3 linked regions of the Homo sapiens genome follow. The protein of the gene in region 3 purifies or fractionates together with the protein of the main gene of each other region. This does not show direct contact. Each region holds a gene or a part of one and is shown on either strand. Other genes may lie near its edges.

Evidence for each region.
Region 1: the proteins of IDH1 (region 3) and OAT fractionate together in Homo sapiens (co-fractionation; one large-scale study listed by BioGRID). This does not show direct contact.
Region 2: the proteins of IDH1 (region 3) and KYAT3 fractionate together in Homo sapiens (co-fractionation; one large-scale study listed by BioGRID). This does not show direct contact.

The regions. Positions count from the first base shown.
Region 1 is NC_000010.11:124,401,924-124,405,581, reverse strand, and holds part of OAT (ornithine aminotransferase, mitochondrial isoform 1 precursor), read left to right. Parts: intron 1-18; coding exon 19-146; intron 147-1,661; coding exon 1,662-1,784; intron 1,785-2,526; coding exon 2,527-2,655; intron 2,656-3,658. UniProt on the Homo sapiens protein: Catalyzes the reversible interconversion of L-ornithine and 2-oxoglutarate to L-glutamate semialdehyde and L-glutamate.
Region 2 is NC_000001.11:88,937,881-88,940,713, forward strand, and holds part of KYAT3 (kynurenine--oxoglutarate transaminase 3), read right to left. Parts: intron 1-2,833. UniProt on the Homo sapiens protein: Catalyzes the irreversible transamination of the L-tryptophan metabolite L-kynurenine to form kynurenic acid (KA), an intermediate in the tryptophan catabolic pathway which is also a broad spectrum antagonist of the three ionotropic excitatory amino acid receptors among others.
Region 3 is NC_000002.12:208,248,425-208,252,082, reverse strand, and holds part of IDH1 (isocitrate dehydrogenase [NADP] cytoplasmic), read left to right. Parts: intron 1-515; 5' UTR 516-531; coding exon 532-653; intron 654-3,422; coding exon 3,423-3,658. UniProt on the Homo sapiens protein: Catalyzes the NADP(+)-dependent oxidative decarboxylation of isocitrate (D-threo-isocitrate) to 2-ketoglutarate (2-oxoglutarate), which is required by other enzymes such as the phytanoyl-CoA dioxygenase.

The sequences.
Region 1 (3,658 bases), on a different chromosome or scaffold from region 3:
TTTGTTTCCCCTTTGTAGCTGGGAACTTCTGGGGTAGGACGTTGTCTGCTATCTCCAGTTCCACAGACCCAACCAGTTACGATGGTTTTGGACCATTTATGCCGGGATTCGACATCATTCCCTATAATGATCTGCCCGCACTGGAGGTATTTCACTAGCATCATAGTGCTCAGCTCATTGGGAATAGAAATTAAAGCTGTTGAATATATGAATTAAAAGTACATTATATGACAGTAATGCAAATTTATCTCACTTAAGTTAAGCCACGATTTCAGACTTGTTCTCAGTAGCGATCAATTAGTTTCCAACACAGAGAAAGCTGAGTTCTGTGATCTACTCTGTACAGCCAGCCAACTACTTTAGATGTGTGTCCTTCATAACAGTTAACTTCGGTATACCTGCTTACTTACTAGGTAAAATTTCTGTTTTTAGCTAGCTTTTTAAAATTATGAAGTGGAAGACTTTTTAAGAAAGCCTTAAGTTGGCTTTAAAAGGCTATTTACTTTAGATTTAATTTAAGTAATTAATTTCTTTTTTTGAGACAGAGTCTCACTCTGTCACCTAGGCTGGAGCGCAGTGGCACAATCTCGTCTCACTGCAAACTCCGCTTCCTGGGTTCAAGTGATCCTCCTGCCTCAGCCTCCCAAGTAGCTGGAACCACAGGCACACACCACCACACCCAACTAACTTTTCTATTTTCTTTAGAGACATGGTTTCGCCACGTTGGCCAGGCTGGTCTCGAACACTTGACCTCAAGTGATCTGCCCACCTTGGCCTCCCAAGGTGCTGGGGTGACAGGCATGAGCCACTGTGCCCAGCCAGATTTAATTTAGGTACATTTGTGTATTAGAAAACAGGCTGGGCATGGTGGTACATGCCTGTAATCCCAGTGCTTTGGGAGGCCAGGGCTGGAGGAGCACTTTGTGTTCAGGAGTTCAAGACCAGCCTGGGCAGCATAGGGAGAGCCTGTCTCTACAAAAAAATTTAAAAATCAAGGTCAGGCGCGGTGACTCACGCCTGTAATCGCAGCACTTTGGGAGGCCGAGGCAGGCAGATTGCTTGAGGTCAGGAGTCGAGACCAGCCTGGCCAACAGTGAAACCAGAGACAGTGGTGAAACCCTGTCTCTACTAAAAATACAAAAAAAAATTAGCTGGGCGTGGTGCTGTGCGCCTGTAATCCCAGCTACTTGGGAGGCTGAGGCAGGAGAATTGCTGGAACCCAGGAGGCAGAGGCTGCAGTAAGCCAAGATCGTGCCACTGCACTCCAGCCTGGGTGACAGAGTGAGACTCCATCTCCAAAAAAAAAAAAATGAAAATAAATAAAAAATTAGCTGGGCATGGTGCGCAGCTACTTGGCAGGCTGAGGCAGGAGGATCACCTTGAGCCCAGGAGTTCGAGACTTTAGTGGGCCATGTTTGTGCTGCTATACTCCAGCCTGGGCAACAGAATGAGGCAAAAAAGGAAATGTAGGCTAGTGTAACTTAAAGGTGAGGTATTTGGAGCTTCTGATAATTGAATGGCAGTGAATTTGAAGTCAGAATTTACGTTAGTGCGAAAACTTGATTTGCATACTTAATGTAAAATATGTGTGGTATATGCTTTCAGATTTCCAAGTGTGGTAGAAAGGAAGTTATTAAAACTTATTCCTGTTTCTTCTGTAGCGTGCTCTTCAGGATCCAAATGTGGCTGCGTTCATGGTAGAACCAATTCAGGGTGAAGCAGGCGTTGTTGTTCCGGATCCAGGTTACCTAATGGGAGTGCGAGAGCTCTGCACCAGGCACCAGGTTGTCACGTTAGCTGTTTGTGATAAGGCTGAATGTCGAGTTAGCTGTTTGTGATGAGGCTGAATGGGCTCCTCCCCAACTCCTCTCTGAATTCTGCTGATTGGATAAATGCAAAGATTAAATTACTTTCCACTAGAGGGCGATGGCATTCTAAGAGCTTAAGTACTTCCTAGTGCTTAGAAACCTGCACAGAAGCAGACTTTTTCCTGTCTCTGGCCTTGTCCTGGGCCCTGTGCAGAACTGCAGACCTGGTCTTAACAGCGTTTCCTTCCTCGCTGCTCTAAGAGCCTTTCACTCTGAGCCCCCGCAAGCCCTTTGTTGTATTCTCTCCTCCTTTCCCCCAGGGCTAATAGTAGTATATTTTGTTTACCATTTGAGAGTTTCTGTCACATATTAAATGCTTGTGGAATAAACAAATGAATTAATTTGTTCCCAGAGGGTAGTTAGGTCCAGAAAAGCCATACAAAACCCTCACCTTTGCATCAGCACCTTTTCACTATGTAGAGCAGGGCAGAATGGGCCTCTAGGGAGATAGTGGCCTGACAAAGGAAATAGTTGGTGAGTCTACAAGATTCTTATAGGATACTCTTGAAATTGTGTGCAGTTAAAACATTTTTACAAATTTGAGGGCACATCAGAATTACACATTTATTGTTGGTGGGGGGACAGTGAAATAAGGATGGCTATTTTCCCTGTGGAAACGAAAGTGATCACTAATAGGGGTATTTTTTTTCCCCAATAGGTTCTCTTTATTGCTGATGAAATACAGACAGGATTGGCCAGAACTGGTAGATGGCTGGCTGTTGATTATGAAAATGTCAGACCTGATATAGTCCTCCTTGGAAAGGCCCTTTCTGGGGGCTTATACCCTGTAAGTTTCATGTTCCCCCTCTTTCCATTTCCTACTCTTGTAAAATATACCCCTAAAGTATTTATACATCAACTGATTGTGACAACAATGCTTTCAGATTGTTTGATTTTACCAAGTGTGCTGCAGGCCACCCGGAATATCTGTAATAAAAACATTTAAGGGACCAGTGTGTGACCCACTTACTTATTGCCTGAAGAATTGAGTGTGCCTTGGAATTTGCTATGACATTGGATTTGGGTGGAAACAGTTTACCCCCAAAGGACTCCTGTAGACTCCTGTCCTTTTTTCCAGTGTTCAGAAACATGGCATATTACTAATTGTTTAAAACCATGACTGGTGAACAAAGAGACTGAGAAAAATTAATGTTTGTTGTAGTTCATGTCTTGGGTTTGCCTTTCAGAGCCAGTAATTGTTACTACATCAGAGGTCTCTGAAGTATAGATGTTTTTGCTGAATAGACAAAACTTTTGCTAAAAAGAATGCTCAGCTTTGTTTTTTAAGCATTTAAACAAAGCATTTCATCTCGACGTTGGAAGTGATTGTGAAATTATATCATTGCAGAAATAGCTTTTCTCTTTTAGTTGCAAAATTATATTGTTTTGTGCCATTGAAGTGTACCTAAAGTATTTGTAATGTTTTAGGGTATGACTAAGTCATTAGGTTGTTACTGGTAGTTAGGTTGGCAGATGTAAACTCTTTCGTTGAAGTCATTAAGTATCAGTTTCTTGGCCGGGTGTGGTGGCTTATGCCTGCAATCCCAGCACTTTGGGAGGCCGAGGCAGGCAGATCACCTGAGGTCATGAGTTCGAGACCAGCCTGGCCAACATGGTGAAACTATATCTCTACTAAAACTACAAAATAAATAAATAAATAAATAACATGTGTGGTGTGGTGGTGGGCACCTGTAATCCTAGCTACTTGGGAGGCTGAGGCAGGAGAATTGCTTGAGTCCAGGAGGCAGAGATTGCAGTGAGCTGAGATCACGCCACTGCACTCAAGCCTG
Region 2 (2,833 bases), on a different chromosome or scaffold from region 3:
GAAAGTCAAAGAAAACTGAGAAACCATTCTAGCTTGAAGGAGACATGACAACTAAATGCAATGCATGATTCTAGCCTGAATTAATTAATTATTATAAAAAGGACATTATTGGGACAATGAATGACATTTAAATCAGATCTGAGGATTAGATGGAGTATCAAGGTTAACTTCATGATTTTGAGGGTTATATTGTGGTTTGGGAGGAGAATGTCTTGTTTATGAAGAATACACAAGAAAGTATATGGGGGTGATCGGAGCATCCTCAGTAATTAAGTTGACAACTTACTCTGAAATAGTTTAGAAAAAAGTTCTTGAAACTTTTAGGTTGAGAGCATTTAAAAATATTTGTTTTAAAGTAAGTCAGCTTCCCACCTATCTTCCTCAGCCACTCAGTTTTTCTCTCCAGAGACAACACTGGGATTTCATTATATATTTTTCCAGAGATTTTCATCCATCTTTCTTTTTAAAATTGTATATTTTTTATTGTTCTTGTTTATTTATTTTTAACTTTTATTTTAGGTTTGGGGGTACATGTGAAGATTTGTTACATAGGTAGACTCATGTCACAGGGGTTTGTTGTACAGATCATTTCATCACCCAGGTATTAAGAGCACAGCACCCAACAGTTATCTTTTCTGCTCTTCTCCCTCCTCCCACCCTCCACCCTCAAGGAGGCCCCAGTGTCTGTTGTTCCCTTCTTTGTGTTCATGAGTTCTCATTATTTTTGGCTCCACTTATAAGAGAGAACATGTGATATTTGGTTTTCTGTTCCTGTGTTAGTTTGCCAAGGATAATAGGCTCCAGCTCCACCCATGTTCCTGCAAAAGACATGACTTCATTCTTTTTTATGGCTGCATAGTAGTCCATGGTGTATATGTACCACATTTTCTTTATCCAATGACAGCATTGATGGGCATTTAGGTTGATCTGAATGTAGCATCATTTATTCAAGCAGCCCCCACTGGTGAATAATTTTGTTGTTTACAATATTTTGCTATTACAAATGATGCCTCAGTGAAAATCCTTGAATATAAGTCATTCGAAATGTGCAAATAAATCCACAAGAAAACACTTGTAGAGGTAGAATTGTTGGATCAAAGGGTATGGGAAATCACATCTGAACAGAAATTTTCAAACTAACCACCATAGAGATTTTACAAATTATACTCCCACTCTCAATTTGTGAGAGTGTTTTATGAAACTTTTAGTTGTTTTGGTTGTTTCCAATCTAAGAGATAAAATTTCTTTGCAGTTCTATTTTTCATTTCCCTTACTATGAAATAAGTTTGACAACTTTTATAAGTTTAACAACTACTAAGGATCTTACCCATAATATTATAAAGTGCTATTTTTGCCTTAAATTTATTTACTTTTATCACTTTTATTTTGCTCTGAATTCAAACTGCTTTCTTTCAATTTCTATTTTCTTGGTATGTTTTTGTCATTCTTTGATTTTTAGTCTTTCTAAGAGGTGGAGTTAGGTGTGTCCACTTTCCCTAGAAACTTCCAGCTACTTCCACACTATCTGCCAATATTGACTGCTGATGTAAGAAGAGTCTGGGTCCATACTGATCCTCCTCTTCTGGCCCCTCTGGAGGCCTTGATCTTACTGTCTAGGTGACCAAAGGAATTGTCTTTGAAGCCCAATATATCAAGCGAGGTATATCTCAGTGTTAATAATTGTGTGACAATTATTATTATATGCAGGTTCCATTTGTTCTGCTCTTATTTTTTTCTGGCAACTCCACATATTTTATTTTTCCTCTGCATCAATAATTTTTCTGCCTAATATTTTAAAAATTATTTGTTCCTTTCTACTTCCTTTTGCTCACTTATCTCCATCCTTAATGTCCTTACAGAAGTATTTAGTGTTCTTTGTGGTGTTTCTATTAATAATGTCACCATAATTTCCAATAGCTTTATTTTTTCTTTTCAATTTCCTACCTGAACTCTGATAGCTCCCATTTGATCTTCTTATAATATCTTACTCTATCTTCCCTGAATTCGTAAAATCTCTGCTTTCTCATTTTAAAGGTTTTAAATCTGAAATAGCACTAATTTTATTTGCTCCATGGCAACATTTTTTTTGGGCGAATATTCTCTAACACTTGTTTTTCCTTGTACCTTTCTCTTTTCCTTATACTGTCCTATATAGATTCACAGTTGGTTCCTCTTTTATTATTATTATTATTGTTATTATATTTTTTGAGACAGAGTCTGACTCCATCACCCAGGCTGGAGTGCAGTGGAGCAATCTCAGCTCATTGCAACCTCTGCCTCCTGGGTTCAAGTGATTCTCATGCCTCAGCCTCCCAAGTAACTGAGATTACAGGCATGTGCCACCATACCCACCTCAATTTTTTGTATTTTTAGTAGAGATGGGGTTTCACCATGTTGGCCAGGCTGGTTGTGAACTGCTGACCTCAAGTGATCCTCCTGCCTCGGCCTCCCAAAGTAATGGGATTACAGGTGTGAGCCACCGCACCTGGCCCCTCCTCTTTGATTATTAATCATTTTTGATTGAATTCTTTGTTTTCCACTGCCAAAGCATGCACTATACCTATTGTTCTGAGTAATAAGCATGCTACCTGCTGGCTTTGTCTGTGATTTGAAGATAGATTTGCTGATTTGTATAAGGGAGAAGCTGGGGCAGCACCAGAAAAGAGCAGAAATTCTCCTTGTCTCATAGTAAAATTTAATACAGTTGATGTAGGGTTCAGTGGGTGGGAGTTCTTTTAGACCACAGTTCTTACCAAATAATTAAATTGGCTATCCCCAGTTTAATACATCTCTTCCGCATTGCTTCAACATAGCTTTTAGCAAAATGACAGGA
Region 3 (3,658 bases):
CCTCTTAAAGGAGGAGAAATGCTAGCACTCACCATTCTGGACATCTTGAGAGCCCAGTAAAATGATGAGTTGGACTGAAGTGTTCAATAAACATGAGATTGTGGAAATAATCTCATTTCTTAAGACAAACCAGTAGTTGAGAATAATGATTGCATTATGAAGGGCACGTTATAGGGTCAGGCTCTGCCACGCTCTAGCTAGGTGGCCTTGGGAAAGCTCTTTTTTTTTTAACAAAGTAAAATGGGGAAATGATGGCCATTTTTTTGGATTGTTATGAGGGCTAGCTCAGAAACCGCGTGTGAAACATAACACAATACTTTGTTCAGAGAAGATACTCAATTCTAATGGTAAATAGAATTGCTGTTACTAGCTTTTTATTCAACTACACATAAATTGAATTGCATGAATTGTTCTTTTAGTAGTCACTACGTTGTTTATATAAACACTACGTTGTTTATATATTTCACTTTATAATGAAATAAATGACAAGGCATGTATTTTTTTTTTCTTTTTAGGTTTATTGAAGTCAAAATGTCCAAAAAAATCAGTGGCGGTTCTGTGGTAGAGATGCAAGGAGATGAAATGACACGAATCATTTGGGAATTGATTAAAGAGAAACTCATTTTTCCCTACGTGGAATTGGATCTACATAGGTAAATGAGTTACCCCTCCGTGTAGCAAACTCAGAAAGGATAATCTGGCTGGGCATGGTGGTGCACACGTGAAGTCCCAGCTACTTAGGAGGCAGAGGCAGGAGGATCCCTCAAGACCAGGAATTCAAGTCCAGCCTGGGCAACAGAGTGAGACCCCATCACTTTAAAAAAAAAAGGAAAAAAAAGGGAAGGAGAAACAGGAAAAAAAAAAAGAATATAATCTGAATTATTTTGAGGTGAAGTTAGCTTTTTTTATATAGATATAGCTGTGTTTTGTGAATAAAGTTTGTTTTAAGCCTAAATATATTCAGATGAATCTTCTAATTTTAACATACTGCTAGAAAAACTGGATTTATCATCTAAAAGTCAAGAATTATAAGGGAAAGAATGATTTTCAGATTCTTCTAACCTTCTGTTTCCTGTGAAGGTTTTATTTGTAATAAAACAGTGGCTAAGAATAGTACAATGTATTGAGAAAAGGGAAATAAGAGAGGATGTAAGAAACAGTAAACTAAATGCAGTTAACACAATTTTGTCATTTCAAACTCAATTTTCTATCACTTTACTTAGTCAATGGACCTGTTTCCTTTTCATGCCTCACCTTTTGCCCTTTTCATACAATTGTAGTGCAGAAAGAATTCATGATGTTTCTTAGTTGAACCCCTCCTTTCCAGCAAAATTCCCTTAAATCCTGTGTCCCTTTGCCCTGTGTGTAAAGTGCCTGGGGACAGATGCAAAAGTCTATGTAATTCTCTCATTTTTTTCGCTGTGTTTTTCATAAACTTGCTTCTGTTCTTTGTACCTTTAGGTAGAGATAGAATTTTTAAAAGGGTAAAGTGGCTGAAGACTGGCATAGAAAAATATTGAGCAACACGTTTCAGCCAAACTATTGGCAACTCTAAGTGTGTTTGCCTCAGCCCAGAATTAGTCATCAAAATTTGTCCTAAGGACCTGTTTGAGTGGAGACATTTAATTCACATAATGTCATTAAACATACTTTTTAATTGTTCTAAACCTAAGCTGCTGATGTCTATATTGAAATCATGATAAGATATAAATACTTGCAGAAGTCAACCAAACATAAGAAATTAGGCATAAAAACATCTTCCAACTAGGTTAAAAAAAAAAAGCATCTTAGGAACTCCTGTTTCAGGACTTTACATGACAGTAGGTGAACTGGCAGGGTTCTTTTCCTTATAATGGCTGCAACTAAAGATGCTTTGAGCCTCTTTAGTGTGGAATCATGAGGAGTTTTAAAGGGGAGTCACTATGACTAGGAGGAAAAAATTTGGTGGCTGCAGACTAGATAATTTTTGGAGGCTCAAACAAGTTTTAAATTTTTCCAAAATTCCTATTATTATCACTGACTGGTTCTTTTTCAGGAGAATGGAGCAGGTAGTTTGTTTTATGTAGGCTGGACAGTGGTCTGGGCAATTTGTTCCTTCCTTTCTTATCTTCTTAGAAATGTTAAGAAGACAAGCAAAAAATCTAATAATTTGCTGATAGATTCTCCTTATGAGAAATGGTTCCTAGGAACTTGAAAACTACTGATCATACTTCCTGTTGGAGTTGGGATTGGATCAACATTTCCTATGCAAGAAGATAACAAAGGACATGACTTTGTTAGATTTATATGAATTATCTAAAGTCGAAGCAGTTGGAAGTTATTTTTATTTGGAAATATGTCAAGATTACTATCTCTTTGTTTGCATCATGAGTTGGGTAGGAGATCTAAGAAAGGAAGATAAGGGAACCAAAAAGAAATCTAGAGGCAGGTTTTAAGAGCTGAAAAACCTTTTAAATCCTTGGAGAACAGAATAAACAAAACATTATTTTGTTTTCTTGCTTTTTAACAAACTATTGCATGCTTCAAATAAAGCTTTGCAGTCATTTTCTATGCTCCCTGGACAACTAACATTCTTTCAGCTCTGAATGACCTGCAATCTTTGTGTTGGTGTATATTAAGCTATTACTCTCTGGTATGTAGAAAACCATTGATGGATTCCTTTACTTACCCAATAAATTGTAGGCTTGTTTCCAGAGCAAACACTTGCTCAAGAATTACAGAAGGAATTAGCTGGGCATGGTGGTGCATGCCTGTAGTCCCCGCTACTGGGGAGGCTGAGGCGGGGGAATCACTTGAACCCAGGAAGGCAGAGGTTGAGTGAGCCAAGATCGTGCCACTGCACTCCAGCCTGGGCAACAAAACGAGACTCATCTAAAAAAAAAAAAAAAAGGGAAAGGCTCATTTTATGACTAACTGGCATTAATGAAGTAGTCATTCGCATTTTTGGCATCAACTGTCACATCTTTACCTCCCACCACTTCAACGTCAAAATACAAAAAATCCTTTAACCCCTCCCACCCCCTTTTATTTTTAAAGAGCAATATTTACTAAGGGAAAAAGGTGGTCCTTAGACTTACACTTATTATACTAATTATATGGAGAGAAACCAGGCCATTATTGCCTCTATCTGGTGAAAAACAGGAGGCAAAGGGCAGAGTTTGATGGTTTCCATTCATTTTCCTGATAGACAGCTTCCCATTACAAGAGGAGGGGCAGCCCAGCAGTCTAGCCTCTCTTAGTTCTCTTTGTAGTTGGCACCCATCTTCTGTGTTTAGGGTGTGCCAGTGCTAAAACTTGGCAGATTTTGGTGTACTCAGAGCCTTCGCTTTCTGCATAATGAGCTCTATATGCCATCACTGCAGTTGTAGGTTATAACTATCCATTTGTCTGAAAAACTTTGCTTCTAATTTTTCTCTTTCAAGCTATGATTTAGGCATAGAGAATCGTGATGCCACCAACGACCAAGTCACCAAGGATGCTGCAGAAGCTATAAAGAAGCATAATGTTGGCGTCAAATGTGCCACTATCACTCCTGATGAGAAGAGGGTTGAGGAGTTCAAGTTGAAACAAATGTGGAAATCACCAAATGGCACCATACGAAATATTCTGGGTGGCACGGTCTTCAGAGAAGCCATTATCTGCAAAAATATCCCCCGGC